2 separate regions of the Homo sapiens genome follow, and region 2 is linked to region 1. The links come from fine-mapping of genetic effects on gene expression. A gene starts in region 1. The other region holds a variant in brackets. All regions are shown on one strand. Distances are from middle to middle.

Region 1 (9,049 bases):
GATTACAGGTGCGAGCCACCGCGCCCGGACCAGATTGTTTTAATCACACTAGTACCTTCTTGCAGCCTCAGCACAGTGCTTTAATAGTAGGCCCTCTATCTCAGACATGAAAACATGAGCAAAAGCAAAAATACGAGGCCTGGCCGGGCGCGGTGGCTCACGCCTGTAATCCCAATGCTTTGGGAGGCCGAGGTAGGTGGATCACCTGACATCAGAAGTTTGAGACCAGCCTGACTAACATGGTGAAACCCCGTCTCTACTAAAAATACAAAAAATTAGCCAGGCGTGGTGGCAGACGCCTATAATCCCAGCTTCTCCAGAGGCTGAGGCAGGAGAATCGCTTAAACCTGGGAGGTGGAAGTTGCAGTGAACCAAGGTCACACCACTGCACTCCAGCCTGGGTGACAAGAGTGAAACTCTGTCTCAAAAAAAAAAAAAAAAAATAGTAGGCCCTTAGCCGGGCACGGTCGCTCCACCTCTAATTCTAATTGGGAGGCCAAAGTGGGTGGACCACTTGAGGTCAGGAGTTTGAGACCAGCCTGGCCAGCATGGTGAAACCCCGTCTCTACTAAAAATACAAAAATTAACTGGGTGTGGTGGCACACACCTGTAATCCCAGCTACTAGGGAGGCTGAGGAAGGAGAATCACTTGAACCCAGGAGGCAGAGGTTGCAGTGAGCCGAGACGGCGCCACTGCACTCCAGCCCTGGTGACAGAGCAAGACTCTAAGGAAAAAAAAAAAAAAAAGGCCGGGTGCTGTGGCTCACGCCTGTAATACTAGCACTTTGGGAGGCCAAGGAGGGTGGTTCGCTTGAGGTCAGGAGCTGGAGACCAGCGTGGCCAACATGGCGAAACCCCATCTCTACCAAAAGTACAAAAATTAGCCAGGCATGGTGGTGCATGCCTGTAGTCCCAGTTACTTGGAAGGCTGAGGCAGGAGAACTGCTTGAACCCCAGAGGCAGAGATTGCAGTGAGCTCAGATCAGATCACTGTACTCCAGCCTGGGTGAAAGAGCCAGACTCTGTTTCAAAAAAATAAAAAATAAAAAATAAAAAAGCCGGGCGCAGCGACTCATGCCTATAACCCCAGCACTTTGGGAGGCCAAGGTGGACGGATCACCTGAGGTCAGGAGTAGGAGACCAGCCCGGCCAACATAGTGAAACCTCATCTCTACTAAAAATACAAAAATTAGCCAGGCATGGTGGCATACGCCTGTAATCCCAGCTACTCAGGAGACTGAGGCTGGAGAATCGCTTGAACCCAGGAGGCGGAGGTTGCAGTGAGCTGAGATTGTGCCACCACACTCCAGCCTGGGTGACAGAGCAAGACTGTCTCAAAAAAAAAAAAAAAAAAAAAAAAAAAAAAAATAGAATAAGAAAAAGGCAGGCTGGGTACAAGATACTAGTCTGTTATGCCATTCTTCCCCACAGCCTTTTTAAAGTTACTGAGAACTATGACAGTAATTAGGCCTATAATACTCCTGGGAAGGAAACGAATCTATCTGTGAAACAAAAATTAATTTTTTCCCTAAGCTGAGTGAAGAGAATATCCACTTTGTTGGCTTCTGACATACACACTGACAGCACAGTTCACCAGACAACAATCACTCTTCTGGCGTCCCTTTCCCCAGGTATTCTATTCGCTTACTGCTCTATCTTCCCTGCCAGTCCACTCCCTCCTCTTTCCAGCCTGTGCCTTAGACAAGGACCCCAAACAAGGATCACCTGGGAAACTCCAAAAAACAGATTCCTAGTCATAATCCCAATTTTACCAAAAAAGAAGCGTTTGGAAACCCCTTAGATCGACAAGCAGCATCCAAAGACACCAAAAACTTAGGCTCATCAAGTATTAACTTCCTGCCTCAGCCTCCCAAGTAGCTGAGATTACAGGTATGTGCTAGCATCCTACTTATTGTTCACTCTGATAGAATTTTTTTTTCTTTGAGATGAAGTTTTGCTCTTGTCGCCCAGGCTGGAGTGCAATGGCATGATCTTGGCTCACTGAAACCTCTGCCTCCCAGGTTCAAGCAATTCTCCTTGCTCAGCCTCCCGAGTAGCTGGGATTACAGGCTACTTTTTGCAAGGCTAATTTTTGTATTTTTAGTAGAGACGGGGTTTCACAATGTTAGCCAGGCTGGTCTCGAACTCCTGACCTCAGGTGATCCACCCGCCTTGGTCTCCCAAAGTGCTGGGATTACAGGCGTGAGCCACCGCACCCAGTCTAGGTCAAGTTTTTCATCTCTTTCCTTTCCAAGGAGTTAAAGCTGAATTTCAAATTTTACAGTGAAATACACAATTCTAATTTTCTTTCTTTCTTTTTTTTTTTTTTGAGATGCAGTTTTGCTCCTGTTGCCCAGGCTGGAATGCAGTGGCACAATCTTGGCTCATCGCAACCTCTGCCTCCCAGGTTCAAGTGATTCTCCTGCCTCGGCCTCCCAAGTAGCTCGGATTACAGGCACACACCACCATGCCCAGCTAATTTTTGTATTATTATTATTTTTTTCTTAGTAGAGATGGGGTTTTTCCATGTTGGTCAGGCTGGTCTCTATCTCCCGACCTCAGGTGATCCGCCCATCTCGGCCTCCCAAAGTGCTGGGATCACAAGCATGAGCCACTGCACCGGGCCCACAATTCTAATTTTCAAATATATCTTCCTCCTGGAGGAGTGATATTCCAGTTTTGGGTGCAATCCTGATGTAGAGCCCAACTGTCCTGTGAAGAGAGTCAGCTGTTAAAAGGAAACCAAAAAATCAAGGTAGCTCTAGCTGTCCAATTTTACAAGTTTTCAACAGACTTGATGAGGGGTGAGCTAAAGGCGGTCAATGCTTTATTGTCTGTAACTCACTGGCACTGGCATTTCTAGAGTTGCTCACGTTCCCCCTTTTGGTGACTCACAGCACTTCAACATGTTGCCACAGCCAAGGAAAAAAGGAAATCAAGTCAGACAATGGAGGAATCACAGGATTTCCCTCTTCACATCCCCAGGTAGATGAGGTCATTCAATGAGTGTGTTTCCAAGGCTCCACAAATTCCCACACCCTCACCAGTGTTTAAACCTGAATGTTTTATCTGATAACTTTTTCTAATTTCACCAAGTAAGCTTATATATGTCTTAACTGTGAACTCCTGATAAGCACAAATTTTGTCTTGTGATAATTTATTTTTTTCTTTTTTGAGACAGGGTCTCACTCTGTCACCCAGGCTGGAGTGCAGTGATGCGATCTCAGCTCACTGCAATCTCCACTTCGTGGGCTCAAGTGATCCTCCAACCTCAAACTCCCCAGTAGCTGGGATTACAGACACGCGCCACCCCGCCCGTTTAACTTTTTTGTATTTTTAGTAGAGACGGGGTTTCACCATGTTGGCCAGGCTGATCTCGAACTCCTGACCTCAGGTGATCCGCCTGCCTCGGCCTCCCAAAGTGCTGGGATTACAGGAGTGAGCCACTGCACCGGCCAGCGTTTCTTTCTTCAATCACACTCCACCTTGTCTGGTTTGTAGCGCCATCAACAAAACACAGTACGTAAGGATGGACAGCCACAGGCCACGACAACCGGCTCATCAGAAGCGATTTTTTTTTTTTTTTTTTTTTTTTTTAGATGGAGTCTTGCTCTGTCGCCCAGGCTGGAGTGCAATGGCGTGATCTCGGCTCACTGCAACCTCTGCCTCCCGGGTTCAAGCGATTCTCCTGCCTCAGCCTCCTAAGTAGCTGGAGCTACAGGCTCACGTTACCATGCCCGGCTGATTTTTGTATTTTTAGTAGAGACGGGGTTTCACTATGTTGGCCAGGCTGGTCTCGGACTCCTGACCTCAAGCAATCCGCCCGCCCTGGCCTCCCAAAGTGCTGGAATTACAGGCGTGAGCCACCGACCCGGCCCAGACGCGATTTAAATGGCATGACACAGGCAGGCCTCGTGCAAAGACTGCAAGGAGGTCCCGGCAGCTTTTGCAGGGCAATTAATCCACCCAGAGCACTGCGCTCAGAAAGTAATAGGTAAACCCGCGTCCGGACTAACCGGCTGCCCCCACACTTGATCCCTCCCAGTCCGACTCTGCTCCAGGGCGTACCAGGGTTCACTCGTGAAGTCACGACACCCACTCAAGGGGCACTTCCTATAGAGATAAGGGCATTAGAGGAAGGGCAGAGCCCCGGTCAATGCCAACAGCCCGGGAAACAGCCAAGCCGGGCTCCAATCTCTGCCGGCATCCCCTGTCTGCACCGCCGACGCCCCCAGCTACGACCCCGGGGGTCACCTCGCCCAGCATAGCCGTGACGCTGGGAGAGGGTGGGCCCAACGGGGACGCCAAAGAGAGCCATTCAGGCCTCCCCGCGCCCCCGGGGAGACGACTTCTGGAGAGCGGCGTCCGCGGTTTCGCCCTCCCCTGACAGCCCCTCCACGCCCTTCTTCGTCCTTCTGCCCGGCCTCACCCAGCTTCCGGCCGCCCCCGGCCGGGTCTCCCCTCAGACCGGCGCAGGGGACCCAAAGGGCTGTGGCCCGGCCAAGCCCAGGTCCGAAGGCCTGGACCGAGGCAGGGCCCGCGAAGGACGCAGCGCGGTCCGAGAAGCCGGGCGGAAGGAAGGCCCCGGGAGGGCGCGGACAGCTCACCTGCCGCAGGTCGCTGTCGCCTGTCCGCCAGCCTCCAGTCAGCGTGCCCGTCAGCGACTCCCTCAGGCGCCGCAGTCCCTGCAGCCCAGCGGACTGGCGCGAGGCCGGCGCAACGTGGGCACGCAGCGCGGGGCGGGGCCTAGAGATGACACGCCCCTTGTAGCTGACACGCCCTTGCCGGGGGCGGGAAGCGGAGTATGTGGCTTTCCCCAGGTCTCTGGAGGTTGCAGGCTCAGGCTCTGCTCAGCGGGGTAAGTAGGCGTGCTTCGGCAGGAACACTAGTGTTCACAAGAGCCGAGGTGTGTGAGGGTGCCTCAGGGTTGAGCACTTTTCTTCCCCAGTGTGGTTTAATCCTTGTACATCCACTCAGTGATGTAAGAAATAGGGTTGTCAACCGTGGCACCACCCACTTGGTCACTTGCCAATGCAATCTGCGAAACTGAGTCTCAACTCTGACACCTCGGTTACCAGTCTTGTATCTGATCTCCCTGTTGCATTATTCGCATTCTTCAAACAGCGGCCAGAATGACAGAATGATTTTTCTTTTTTTGAGACCGAGTTTTGCTCGTCGCCCAGGCTGGAGTGCAATGACGTGATCTCGGCTCACTGCAACCCCCTTCTCCCGGGTTCAAGCGATTCTCCTGCCTTAACCTCCCGAATAGCTGGGATTACAAGCGCCTGCCACCACGCCCGGCTAATTTTTGTATTTTTAGTAGAGACGGGGGTTTCACCATGTTGGCCAGGCTGGTCTCGAACTCCTGAGCTCAGGTGATCCACCCGCCTCGGCCTCCCAAATCACTGCAATTACAGGCCACCGCACCCAGCCCAGAGTCATTTTTTAGTTTTACTGAACACAAAGAAATTACTGAAATCGTGGGCCGGGTGTGGTGGCTCATGTCTGTAATCCCAGCACTTTGGGAGCCTGAGGCGGGAAGATCACTTGAGGTCAGCAGTTCGAGACCAGCCTGGCCAGCATGTTGAAACCCCGTCTCTACCAAAAATACAAAAAAATTTTAGCCGGGCATGGTGGCTCCTGCCTGTAATCCCAGCTACTCAGGAAACTGAGGCAGGAGAATCACTTGAACCCAAGAGGCGGAAGTTGCAGTGAGCCAAGATCGCACCACCACTGCACTCCAGCCTGGGCCACAGAGCAAGACTCCACCTTGAAAACAAAAAACAAAAACAAAAAAAAACTGAAATCAGTGCAAGTAGCAGCAACTTCAGAAGTGAGTTAGGGCTGGGCACGGTGGCTCCCACCTGTACTCCCAGCACTTTGGGAGGCTGAGGTGGGTGGATCACTTTAAGTCAGGAGTTCGAGACCTGCCTGGTCAACCTGGTGAAACCCCGTCTCTACTAAAAAATACAAAAATTAGCCGGGCTTGGTGGCACATGCTTGTAATCCCAGCTACTCGGGAGGCTGAGGCAGGAGAATCTCTTGAACCCGGGGGGCGGAGGTTGCAGTAAGCCGAGATCGCGCCACTGCACACCAGCCTGGGCGACGGACCAAGACACTGTCTCAAAAAAATAAAAATAATAAAATTTTAAAAGTGAGTTAGGCAAAGAAAATATCAAGCGGACAAGGCCTCAAGGGATAAGACTCATGGACATAGCTTTAATTATCTTTGCCTGACGCCCAATACCTGAAAATTAAGATGTTCATGCAAGATAAAGAGGTAATTTTTCTCCTCCTCCCAGTCATCACCCGTAGCATCCGGTTAAGAGGCTCTCCACCTCGCTCATTTTGGTCTAACTGGATTTACACAAACTCACTGTGCACGTGCCTGGGGCGGGCAAACCCGGAAACGACGCCGAGTCCCGCGGGATCCAGGAGGAGCCAACTGCGCCGGAGGAGGGGTTTCGGCCGACACGTCGGGATTGGCGGCTGCAGCCAGGGGTCCTCCGACGCTGGGCTTCCGTGAGCGGCGCTCTGCCAGGTGGGGCCGGAGCTGCGGGGAGGGAGTTGGCGCCTAGCGCGCAGCTCCATCCCCGCCTCTGCAGTGGACTCGGCCGCAGAATCGGGGTCCCGGGCTCCTGGAACTTGTCCCGCCCAGGCCGCGGCGAGGAGGTCACTCCAGCCGGTGGGACCCGGGCCGGGGGGCGGGTGACTGGAACCGGGGGAGGCGGGAAGGAGGAGGGGATCGGGCCCAAGGGACACGAGGTGGGTCGCGGGACCCCGATATCTCGGGACAGGCGTCTTGCCGCTCCGGGCCCAGCCGCCCCCTTCGACACATACTCGATGCATAGACAATGGGGGTGTCCTTTGTCGCTCCTGGCGGGAACCCCGGCCCCACCCCCAACTCCACGCCTCCCATTACCCCCAGATCTCTGGACCGGATTCGTCCCATTCTCGTCCTCATGGTGGACAAGAAACTGGTGGTGGTTTTCGGAGGCACAGGTGAGCCAAACCCCAGACTGGGGCCCTTGCAGAGCCAGGGCGCCTAGCCCTGAAGACCGCCCGTCCTGGGGTCTGCAGGGAGGGGTAAGGTCACTGGGACCCCCGACCCAGGTTGGGGCTGTGGTCGCAGGAACGAGGCCCAAATTGCTTTCCAATTTTTTTTTTTTTGGACGGAGTTTTGCTCTGTCACCCAGGCTGCAGTGCGATGGCACGATCTCGGCTCATTGCAACCTTTGCCTCCCGGGTTGAAGCGATTCTCCTGTCTCAGCCTCCCGAGTAGCTGGGATTACAAGGGCATGCCACCACGCCCGGCTAATTTTTGTATTTTTAGTAGAGACGGGGTTTCATCATATTGGTCAGGCTGGTCTCAAACTCCTGACCTCAGGTGATGACCCGCCTCGGCCTCCCAAAGTGCAGGTATTACAGGCATGAACCACCACGCCAGACCTGCTTTCCAAATTAAAAAAAAATGAGTTACTTAACTTATTTGAATAGGAGTACTTGAACATGATACCAAAATTAAATCTTCTTCCTAGCCTCCTCTTCCACCTCATCTATTGCTGTTACCAAGTTTCTTGAATATCCTGCCAGAGTAGATAACATGTTATCATTTTTTCAAATGATAGCATATTATTTCATTCCTATTTTTTCTTATTTATACATATTTAATATCTCTAACAGCTTTATTGAGATATAATTCACGTACTATACAATCTACCTGTTTAAAGTGTGCAACTCACTGGTTTCTAGTGTATTCATAGAATTGTACAACCATCACCACAATCAATTTTAGAAAATTTCCATCACTCCAAAAAGAAACTCTGGCCCAGGTGCAGTGGCTCAACCCTGTAATCCCAGCACTTTAGTTGGACCAAATGGGCAGATCGCTTGAGCTGAGGTGTTTGAGACCAGCCTGAACAACAGGGCAAAATCTCGTCTCTACAAAAAAATACAAAAATTAGTGGGGCGTGGTGTCATGCACCTATAGCTACCTAGGAGGTTGAGGTGGGAGGATCACCTGAGTCCAGCAGGTCAAGGCTGCAGTGACCTGATTGTGCCACTGCACTCCAGCCTGGGCAACAGAGTGAGACCTGATCTCAAAAAAAAAAAAAAAAAAAAGAACTCCATGAACCCGTGAACAGTTACTCCCCATTCTTACTCCTCCCAGCCAACCCCTAGAAAGCTCCAATCTACTTTTGGTTTCTATGGATTTGTCTATTCGGGACATTTCATATGAATAAAATCATAATATGTAGCCTTTTCTCTCTGGCTTCTTCAGTTAGCATGTTTTCAAGGTTTGTTCATGTTGTAGTGTGTGTCCGGGCTTTACTCTTTTTTTTTTTTTTTTTGAGACAGAGTCCCGCTCTGTTGCCCAGGCAGCAGTGCAGTGGCGTGATCTCTGCTCACTGCAACTTCTGCCACTCGGGTTCAAGCGATTCTCCTGTCTCACCCTCCTGAGTAGCAGGGACTACAGGCGTGAGCCACCATGCCTGGCTAATTTTTGTATTTTTAATAGAGATGGGGTTTTGCCATGTGGCCAGGCTGGTCTCAAACTCCTGACCTCAGGTGATCTGCCCACTTCAGCTTCCTAAAGTGCTGGGATTAGAGGCTTGAGCCACCGCGCCCGGCCAACTTTACTTTTTTATTTTTAAGACAGAGTTTCTCTCTTGTTGCCCAGGCTGGAGTGCAATGGTGTGATCTCTGCTCGCTGCAACCTCTGCCTCCCGGGTTCAAGCAATTCTCCTGCCTCAGCCTCCCAAGTAGCTGGGATTACAGGTGTGCACCACCACACCCAGCTAATTTTGTATTTTTTAGTAGAGACGGGGTTTCACCATGTTGGTCAGGCTGGTCTCGAACTCCTGACAGCTTTACTTATTTTTATGGCTGAGTAATATTCCACCGTATGGATAGACTATATTCTGTTTGTCCATTCGTCAGTGGATGGATACTTGATTTATTTCCACTTTTTGGCTATTATGAATAATGCTGCCATGGAACATTGGTGTACACTTTTTTCTGAGTCAGGGTCTTGCTCTGTTGCCCAGGC
Region 2 (9,049 bases), 21 kb before region 1:
TTTTGTAATCTGCTGTCCACGACTTCAAATTTTCTACACTCAAAATAGGTTCTACCGATTTTACTTTGAAGGAAAGCTAACAGGAAGAATACTGAGTTCTCAAGGCGGGCTGAAAGTACCAACTACCATCTGTACAGACCTGGGGGCTGGGGGCAGAGGAGGCTCCTGGGAAGGCTCGGTTAGCATATTCAACCCACAGACTGGGGCCAGGGGAGGCGACCCTGTGGCCTAGCCACTGTCCAAGGGAGTGGCCACACAGTGTGGCATTCAGAGGCCACCTTGCAACTGCAGAAACATAATTTTTTTTCACTTTCTGAAAAGCTACATGTCCAGACTTAGTCTGGCTGGTTTCTATACTTGAATGCTCTTTTCTTTGCAGGAACCATTGGAATCTCTAGAAAATTGAGGGCCAAATCATAAATATAGAACCTTTTTAGACTTCAATGTCTAATATCCACAAGAAGCTACATGTTCCCCACCCCCACAAAAGAGAAAAAAAGATCCTAAAATATTCCACTCTGGGAAATACACTTCAAGAAATAGTAATAGTAATTGTAATCTGTATCAAAATAATACCCAGCCATACTATGATGTTAGGAAAAAAACAACACACAGCCTAAGAACAAAGGGCATGACTGCTCAAACAACAGTCAACAATGGAATCCTGGCACAGCCGGGGCAAGTTGATAAGCTGTGTTCATGCATGGAAAAGCCTACAGAAACTTTTTATTTTTTTAAAAAGGATCCCAAACACCGACTATAACTGTGTGCAAAAGTATACTGATAATGACAAGTGGGAAATTTGGAGAGCTATAAATACTTGTTTTTTGTTGGACTTTTTAGCCAACTGGCTGCTTCTTTTATATGGAGTGACTCAATTCTCTTGGAAAGAAAAAGGGAAGAGGGAGGGGAAGGCAGCGAAGGGAAGGGAAAAAAGAAACCGAGAGACAGGAATTGGACCAAGCAAACCAGCTAAGATCCCGCACTGCATTAACTAACTAGTCAATGGAAGCTCCTGGGTCCTCTTTTCTGTTACAAATTCTAGAAAGGCCAGTCTACCCTCTCTCTTTCCCATTTCCAAAAAACTGGGACCCTCTGTTTATAAAATCTACCTCCACTACTCCATAATTCCAGTACTCCTAGCTGTTCACCTCATCAGCTGCTGATTCTCATTCCAACACCTGAGCTAACAGAAGCAGTAACAAAGTTCCTATCACAGTTACTTCAAGCAAAAGAGGTTCCTTTAGACCAGCTCAGCAGATCCAGAACACTGTCTCAAAGCTTTTGCTCCTGCTAAATTGCTGGCATGAGGCACTACCAGGACTTCTGAGACAACGAAGATGGTAAATCCTCCTCCATGGAGACTAAGTCCAACAAATTTCAGGTCAGGTAACTCAGTGCATTGCTACCAGGTGGGAATATAATCTAAGGACTATATTATAATTCATTTCCCATCTGGTCATACAGAAAGGAACAATAAAGACTTCTTTGCCCTGGAGAAACCTGAACTGAAGGAAGAGAGCAGGTTGCTGAGCTCAGCCAGCACCGAGAGTAAGCAACAGCAGACTGACTCACTCCCTGGAATGAGAACAATTCTGCAGGCTTCTGACTCAATGAAATAGTGACACTTGACAGTGACCAGCTACTACACTGCATGAGATGCCCACAACATGAACTCGGGTTGTTACCCCACAAACACAGGGAGGCTAAGTGGCTGCTCAGAGACTTCTGCACTGGGACTCCACGAGTGCTCCCTCCCTGCTGAACACCTTGCAGTTGGGCATCAGGATTCTTACCATCACCCTGGATGGGGGTCCCCTGCCTGCTTCCTAGAAGGCTGTTTGCAGCTCAGAGCTCACTCCGATATAAAATTGCCACCATATTAATATGAGGTGATTACGCTTCAGCTTCCACAACTGACTGTCATCCTGTCTTCCCAGTTAAACCAAAAGCTTCCTACAAGAGAGATCCAGATTCCCTCAGATTCAGATCAGGGTCCAATATGACTTATAGGCCAGCACCCTGGGGAGCATCCAACCTGAGTTACAGCTGTTGCAAATACACAGATGGAGTTCCTACTGAGAAAGCCAGTTAAATAGAGGATTTGTGTGCCTGTGCCTGTGTGTGTAACAAGAAAATAACAGCTAAATTCTAAAATACCAAGTAAAGTAATACAAATTTTTAATTGGGTCCCATGTCTCTAAATTAACTGTATGAAATCTGTTTTGACTTCTCTTCAGATCTGACTTGACTCCTAAGTTTTTAACTGACAATTATATTTATGGGGTACAGTGTGATGTTTGGACACATGTATACATTGGGGAATAATTAAATCAGGGTTATTAACATATCCATCAGCTCACATGCTTATCATTTCTTTGTGGTGACAACTTTTAAAATCCACTCTTTTACCAATTTTGAAGTATACAATACTATTATAATATTAACCATATTAACTATAGTCACCATGCTGTAAGGCAGATCATCAGACCTTATTTCTCCTAACTGAAATTTTGTACCCTTTGATCAACATCTCCCCTTTCCACACCCACCCTTCCCTTCCCCCAGCCGCTGGTAACCAACATGTTACACTCTCCTTCTATAACTGACTTTTTCAGATTTCACATATAAGTGATATCATGCACCATTTGTCTTTCTTTCTTTGGCTTACTTCACTTAGCATAATGTCCTCTAGATGCATCCATGTAGTCACAAATGACAGAATTTCCTTCTTGTTTATGGTTGAGTAGTATTCCATCGTGCATAAATACCAGCTTTTAAAAATCCATTAATCCACTGTGTGCTGCGAAGACTAAGTGGGCTAACACGCATGAATGTTTGACAAAATGCAGCACCACCTCAAATATTGAGCTCTTACTGAGGAAGTCGCTGGTGAGAATGAGCAATTGGGTGATTGTTAAACACTGAGGAAGAACAAGAAATCCAGCAATTTCAGATAGTTCTGGGCAGGTCACACCTGAGGACTTCTGACTCAGACCTCATTCTCCAGCAGCGTCAGGAAATAGGAATATCTGCCCTTTCTAAGGTGAGCCACGTGAGCACTGGAGGCTAGAATACCCACATTGCAGATGCCACTGGAGATTGGCTGAGCCACATGTTTGGGGCAGCAGACAGAGCTCAATCAGTTCTAATCCAACAAGGCACGAGATAACAGAGACTTCTCAACACCCTGAAGAAGCCACATCATCTAGAACTACAGCTTCTGAGTTTATAGAATAAATGGCCTGAGGTCTCCTCTGAACTCTGGTACTACCATTCCTCAGGAAATGTTATACATAAGCCCTTTCATTTCAATCGCTGGGGGAATTCAATCCCACGGTTCACTGAACGGAAGAATAAATATTAACCTCTTGATAAAAGAGCAAATCCAGGCTGGGTGCAGTGGCTCACACCTATAATCCTGACACTTTGGGAGGCCAAGGTGGGAGGATCACCTAAGCCTAGGAGCTCAAGACTAGCCTGGGCAACACAGTCAGACCTTGTCTCTACGAAAAATAAAATAATTAGCCAGGCGTGGTGACACACACCTGTAGTCCCAACCACTCGGGAAACTGGGGCAAGAGGATCTTTTGACCCCAGGAGTTCAAGGATGCAGTGAACTATGATCACACCGTTGCACTCCAGCCTGGCAAGGGAGTGAGATGCAAAAAAAAAAAAAGAGCAAGTTAAGACTGAATCCAGCCGGGTGTGGTGGCTCATGTCTGTAATCCCAGCACTTTGGGAGGCCGAGCGGGTAGATCACCTGAGGTCAGGCATTCAAGACCAGCCTGGCCAACATGGCAAAACCCCATCTCTACTAAAAATATAAAAAAATTAGCCAGGTGTGGTGGTGTGTGACTCTAATCCCAAATACTTGGGAGGCTGAGGCACGAGAATTTCTGGAACCTAGGAGGTGGAGGTTGCAGTGAGCCGACAGTGCCACTGCGCTCCAGCCTGCACAACAGAGCAAGACTGTGTCTCAAAAAAAAAAAAAAAAAAAAAAAGACAATGAATCCTGGAAAAGTGGGGACTCTGGGGACACAAAGCACTTGAGTCAGATTACTAAATAAGCACTTGCGCATTTGGGCAAGAAGGCAGGCAAAAGCAAAACAACTGCAAACTAATTTAAAGGCATTAACCTCTTAAGTAACCTCAAAAACTGACAAGAGACCGGTTGTGGTAGCTCAAGCCTGTAATCTCTGCACTTTGGAACTCTGAGGCAGAAGGATCACTTGTGGCCAGGAGTTCAACACCATCCTGGGCAACAAAGTGAGACCCCC[T/CT]CCATCTCAAAAAATACATTGAATAAAAAAGACAACTGAATAGCAGTTCAAGAAGTCCAAGACTTTTCTTGCAGGCTTTTTTACTGGAGAAGAGAAGTGTGCTCATCTCTAGCCATGTTCAAATACAACTGAGCAAGCAGTGAAGACAGACACCAAGGACAGAACCTGAGACACTGAAATGAGTTCAAAGAAGGGGCCTGGAATCGACTATTGTTGGGACAATGATGAGTCCTGGTAGAGCCTTCCTATTATAACTGAAATAAGCACAAGACTCGCCCCTGTTCCCTGATTGCCACCTCGCTTTATATGAGGACAATGTGTCCCAGGGCTGAGAAGATGAGGATTCTTTAGTTCCATAAGCAGCACCAGGAGCGGGAGGGGTGAAGTCCTGAGTGAATTCTAAAATGGTTCTGGTGGGATTTTTACAGGGACAGAGGCTAGACTTCATGCATCCCACAGGGCTGGCTTTAACTAATGAAACCTTGGGTCATCCCTAGGTTACCATCAAGCAAAAATTATTCCAACACTGAACAACCTTGAAAGCAGGTGTCGTGTGGATAAGTGGAGTCAGTCATGTTTCCTTTCATACAGGCACAAAAATTGTCACCTGTAAGCTTCAGCTTCTATCATAAACAAGGACTGTGAATAGCATTTGGGGGTGGAGGGAAAAAAAGTAGGTGATTAAGATGCATATGCAGAACTGTCATTTTGGGAAACCTGAGAGTGCCATCAGCTCCCAGGTGCTTTCCTCTCTATAAACAGCCTGAAGCCTTAGAAGCCATTCCTGGAGGCTGGTACTGGTAGCTCACACCTATAATCTCTGTACTTTGGGAGGCCGAGGCTGAAGGATCACTTGAGTCCAGGAGTTTGAGACCAGCCTAGGAAACATAGTGAGACCCCCCGTCTCTACAAAAAAAAAAATAATAATAAAATAATTTTTTTTTAAAAGAAGCCATTCCTGCCTTGGCAGAAGGCCCTCAAGTTCACCCAAGAGAGCACCAGACTATAAGTCTGACAGACCTGGGTATACCAGGCTAAGTCACTTTCAAGCAATGTCTCACTGGCTCTGAAGAAACTAAGATCAAGAGAATTAACATGGGCAAGATCACTCAGAGAGCTAATGGTCAAGTTGAGACTAAACTTGAGTCATTCTGAATGCAAGGTGACTCCTCCTGTGTCCCTGGCTAATCCTCATTGGTTCCTGCATGTGAGATTAGTATAGTGTCACCACAGACTGCTAGCAACAAGGAAACTGAAGTTATGGGCTACAGAGGCACTCGTACCACACTGCATTTATGCATGCAGTAGAGAGGTTAAACTACAGCCTGTAATTTGTTGTTTTAGTATGAAAAGTGAGCAAGAGGCCAGGCATGGTGACTCACACCTATAATCCCAGCTCTTTGGGAGGCCGAGGCGGGCAGATCACTTGAGGTCAGGAGTTCGAGAGCAGCCTGGCCAACATGGTGAGACCCCAACTCTACTAAAAATAGAATTATTAGCCAGGCGTGGTGGCGCACACCTGTAATCCCAGCTACACAGGAGGCTGAGGCAGGAGAATCTCTTGAACCCAGGAGGTGGAGGCTGCAATGAGCTAGACTGATCCACTGCACTCCAGCCTGGGCAACAGAGCGAGACTCCATCTAAAAAAAAAAAAAAAAAGAAAGAAAAGTGAGCAAGATTCTATTATTTCTGAGAAATAAGTGCTCAGGCCCAGTTGAAGATTCCGAAGTTGATGCTGCTTGTCCCTAAAACACTCACCTTGGCTCACTCAAATTACACAACAACCTGAGAAGATTGTTCCCTGGTGAGATCTATTTTTGATGACTAACAGGGCAGGCCAAGGCTGGTTCCAGCAGGGGAGGATGGCATACCCCACCACTCAGTGCCTGAAAAGAGGCAATCAGACCTGCCAGACCTTAGTGGACAATGAAGCCAGGGGCTCCAGAGCATCCCTATACCAAAGGGAGGTCACAATAGGGTCTGCACATCTCTATAGCACCCACTGCCATAGTAACTGAAGAGAAATAGACTAAACTGTGTCAAGCATGTATTGAGTATTTAAAATCTAAGCAGTTCTATCTTTCTGCCTACTGAAATATATTGTGCCTCAGAAATGGTAGTGCAATGGATAGAAAGTATGTTAACATAAACTTCCTGTAAAATTAGTAACTCCATAGGACAAGCCTTTGGTCAATCGAACAAGGTGGCTCCAATTTCTCACTCTGGGCCTGCAAGGTATCTTTACACGTTTCCACAGGCCTATAGAGTAAGGTATTATTCCTAGGCTTCTTCACAATGACTGCCCAGATTCTGGTGGGGACTGAAATTGGGGAAAGGAACAAGCCCAGACCAAGAACCAGTAACTCCACATATGGTTGGCTCATCCTACATAGACTGTGCCTATGGTGGGACAGAACTAGCAGCAGCAGCTATTGGACTTGCTCAAAGAAGGATGGTCGGCTTTCCCAGCACTACCAGCAGGCCCTGCCTACACCCAAAGAGTGGTAAGGGGAATGGAATCTGCTTCCTTCTTATCCTCTGACTCACTATCTTAATGCACAAGGCACCAAGAGTGCCTAAAAAAAGGAGGTCCTCAACTGTTTTCCTCCCTTAGTATATAGGGCCTGATTTGCACATGAATGACAACGTCCCATAGGACTAGTCGGGCAGAGTGTCCAGAAAATATATTGCAGATGATGTGAAATTACTAGCAATTAGCTGTAAATGCAGCCCTCTCTTCTACTCTAAACAACTTCTCAGAATGAGAGCCAACTTACAGGGATAATGTTTAACCCAATCAAACCGAGACTGGTCTTGACCTCCTAGCCTCAACAATCCTCCCACTTTGGCCTCCCAAAGTGCTGTGATTACAGGTATGAACCACCATGCCTGGCCAAACTTTTTTTTTTTAGACAGTCTCACTTTTTCACGCAGGCTGGAGTGCAGTGGTGTGATCATAGCTCACTGCAGCCTGGATTTCCCAGGCTCAAGTGATCCTCCTGCTTCAGCCCCCAAAGCAGCTGGGACTACAGGCACACGCCACCACACCTGGCTAATTTTTGTATTTTTAGTAAAGACAGGGTTTCACCATGTTGTCCAGGCTGGTCTCAAACTCCTGGACTCAAGCGATCTGCCTGCCTCAGCCTCCCAAAATGCTGGGAATACAAGCATGAGCCACTGCACCCCACCCAAACTTATTTTTTTAAAGGCAAAGCATTCATCAACTTCATGGTTAGTAACAAATTGTTTGGAACACATCTCATAACCACACTTAAAGAGCAGAAAATCTAAGTGACACAGTGATTACTTAGCAAAATGTACACTAGCTTTCTAGGAAAGCTTTCTAGACACTCCAGCTCTTCAAAGAAACCTTTCAGGATTGGAGCGAAGAGAAAACAGATCACCATGCATTACCCTGCCCAGTCAATGTGTTAAATTTTCATAGCCTTGTTTTCTTTTTTTTTTTTTTTGTGGCAGAGTCTCACTCTGTCGCCCAGACTGGAGTGCAGTGGTGCTATCTCGGCTCACTGCAAGCTCCACCTCCCGGGTTCATGCCATTCTCCTGCCTCAGCCTCCTGAGTAGCTGAGACTACAGGCGCCCACCACCACGCCCCGCTAATTTTTTGTATTTTTAGTAGATACGGGGTTTCACCGTGTTAGCCAGGATGGTCTCGATCTCCTGACCTCGTGATCCACCCGCCTCGGCCTCCCAAAGTGCTGGGATTACAGGCGTGAGCCACAGTGCCGGCCCGACAGCCATGTTTTCTAGTTTCCTCACCAGTATGTAACTCCCCAGACACAGCCTCCCATCACAACTGTCACTTGGCTGTAACTCACTAACTGTATAAATGGCATATGTGACTATTAATTTAGATAAATATTTAAATATTTGTATTTCTGTATGTATTATATGATAAGAAGACTGAATCCCTCCATCTGAATGAAAGTTTGTAGAAATTGGGTTCAACAAGTGTAATAGCAGGCATATGCACAGAAGTCCTTTCTGCACAGCACAATACTAATGTGTTCAAAAGACACACGAGGAGCTGGGGCAGTGGACTGGATTTTACAATGATCTCTAGAGCCTGAGCCATAGTAGGCACCCAACAAATGTTAATTAAGATGAGCCTAGCCATGAGAGAATCTACTGGCCACACAGAGGCCAAGAGGCAGCACATAGATGTGGTTAAGGCACAGGCTGTAGAAAGGCACAACCAAGAGCAAACCCTGGTTCTGCCCATCCCAGTTGGGTGGACTTGGGCCAGCTACTTAATTTCTTGGAGTTTCTTTCTTCATCTGTAAAGGACAGTGATAACAATTCCACAAGGTGGGTATGAGAATTAAATGAGATAAATGAGTTATAAAACTGTGACATCATATGGTGCTGATTAATAAACTAAAGAATATGTCACTTGCAATTTAAAATTAATGGCTGAGCCCAGTGGCTCATGTCTGTAATCCCAGCACTTTGAGAAGCCAAGGCAGGAGGATTGCTTGAGCCTAGGAGTTTGAGACTGACCTGGGCAACACAGGGAGACCCCATCTCTACAAAAAAAAATTTTTTTGAATTAGCTGGTAGGCAGACGGGGGTGGAGGGAGTGGCATGCAGTTGTGGTCACATCCACTTAGGAGGCTTAGGTGGGAAGATCACTTGAGCCTAGGAGGTAAAGGCGGCAGTGAGCTATGACTGAACTACTGAATTCCAGCTTCCAGCCTGGGCCACAGAGCGAGACTCTGTCTCAAAAAAAGAGGAAAAAGAAGAGAAAAGA

The links. PIP is the estimated chance that this variant, and not a neighbour inherited with it, causes the effect. A credible set is the group of variants that fine-mapping cannot tell apart.
Region 2: its variant is the best candidate, but not a certain one, in a credible set for the expression of HMOX2 in blood mononuclear cells (TOPMed, PIP 0.79).

What each region holds. Positions count from the first base shown.
Region 1 is chr16:4,472,046-4,481,094 of GRCh38, reverse strand. It overlaps HMOX2 (heme oxygenase 2), which reads right to left and starts at 4,697. Exons shown (of 6, transcript NM_002134.4): 1 at 4,608-4,697. NMRAL1 (NmrA like redox sensor 1) reads left to right here and starts at 6,470. Exons shown (of 6, transcript NM_020677.6): 1 at 6,470-6,541; 2 at 6,929-7,002. The coding sequence starts at 6,963. LOC124903636 (a long non-coding RNA gene) reads left to right here. Exons shown (of 3, transcript XR_007064964.1): 3 at 1,534-1,831. RefSeq lists an enhancer at 4,400-4,901.
Region 2 is chr16:4,493,017-4,502,065 of GRCh38, reverse strand. All of the region lies in intron 1 of HMOX2 (heme oxygenase 2), which reads right to left. LOC124903636 (a long non-coding RNA gene) reads left to right here and starts at 6,376. Exons shown (of 3, transcript XR_007064964.1): 1 at 6,376-6,784. RefSeq lists silencers at 1,464-1,758, 7,990-8,179. The variant T/CT (reference allele first, on the strand shown) is at 4,281.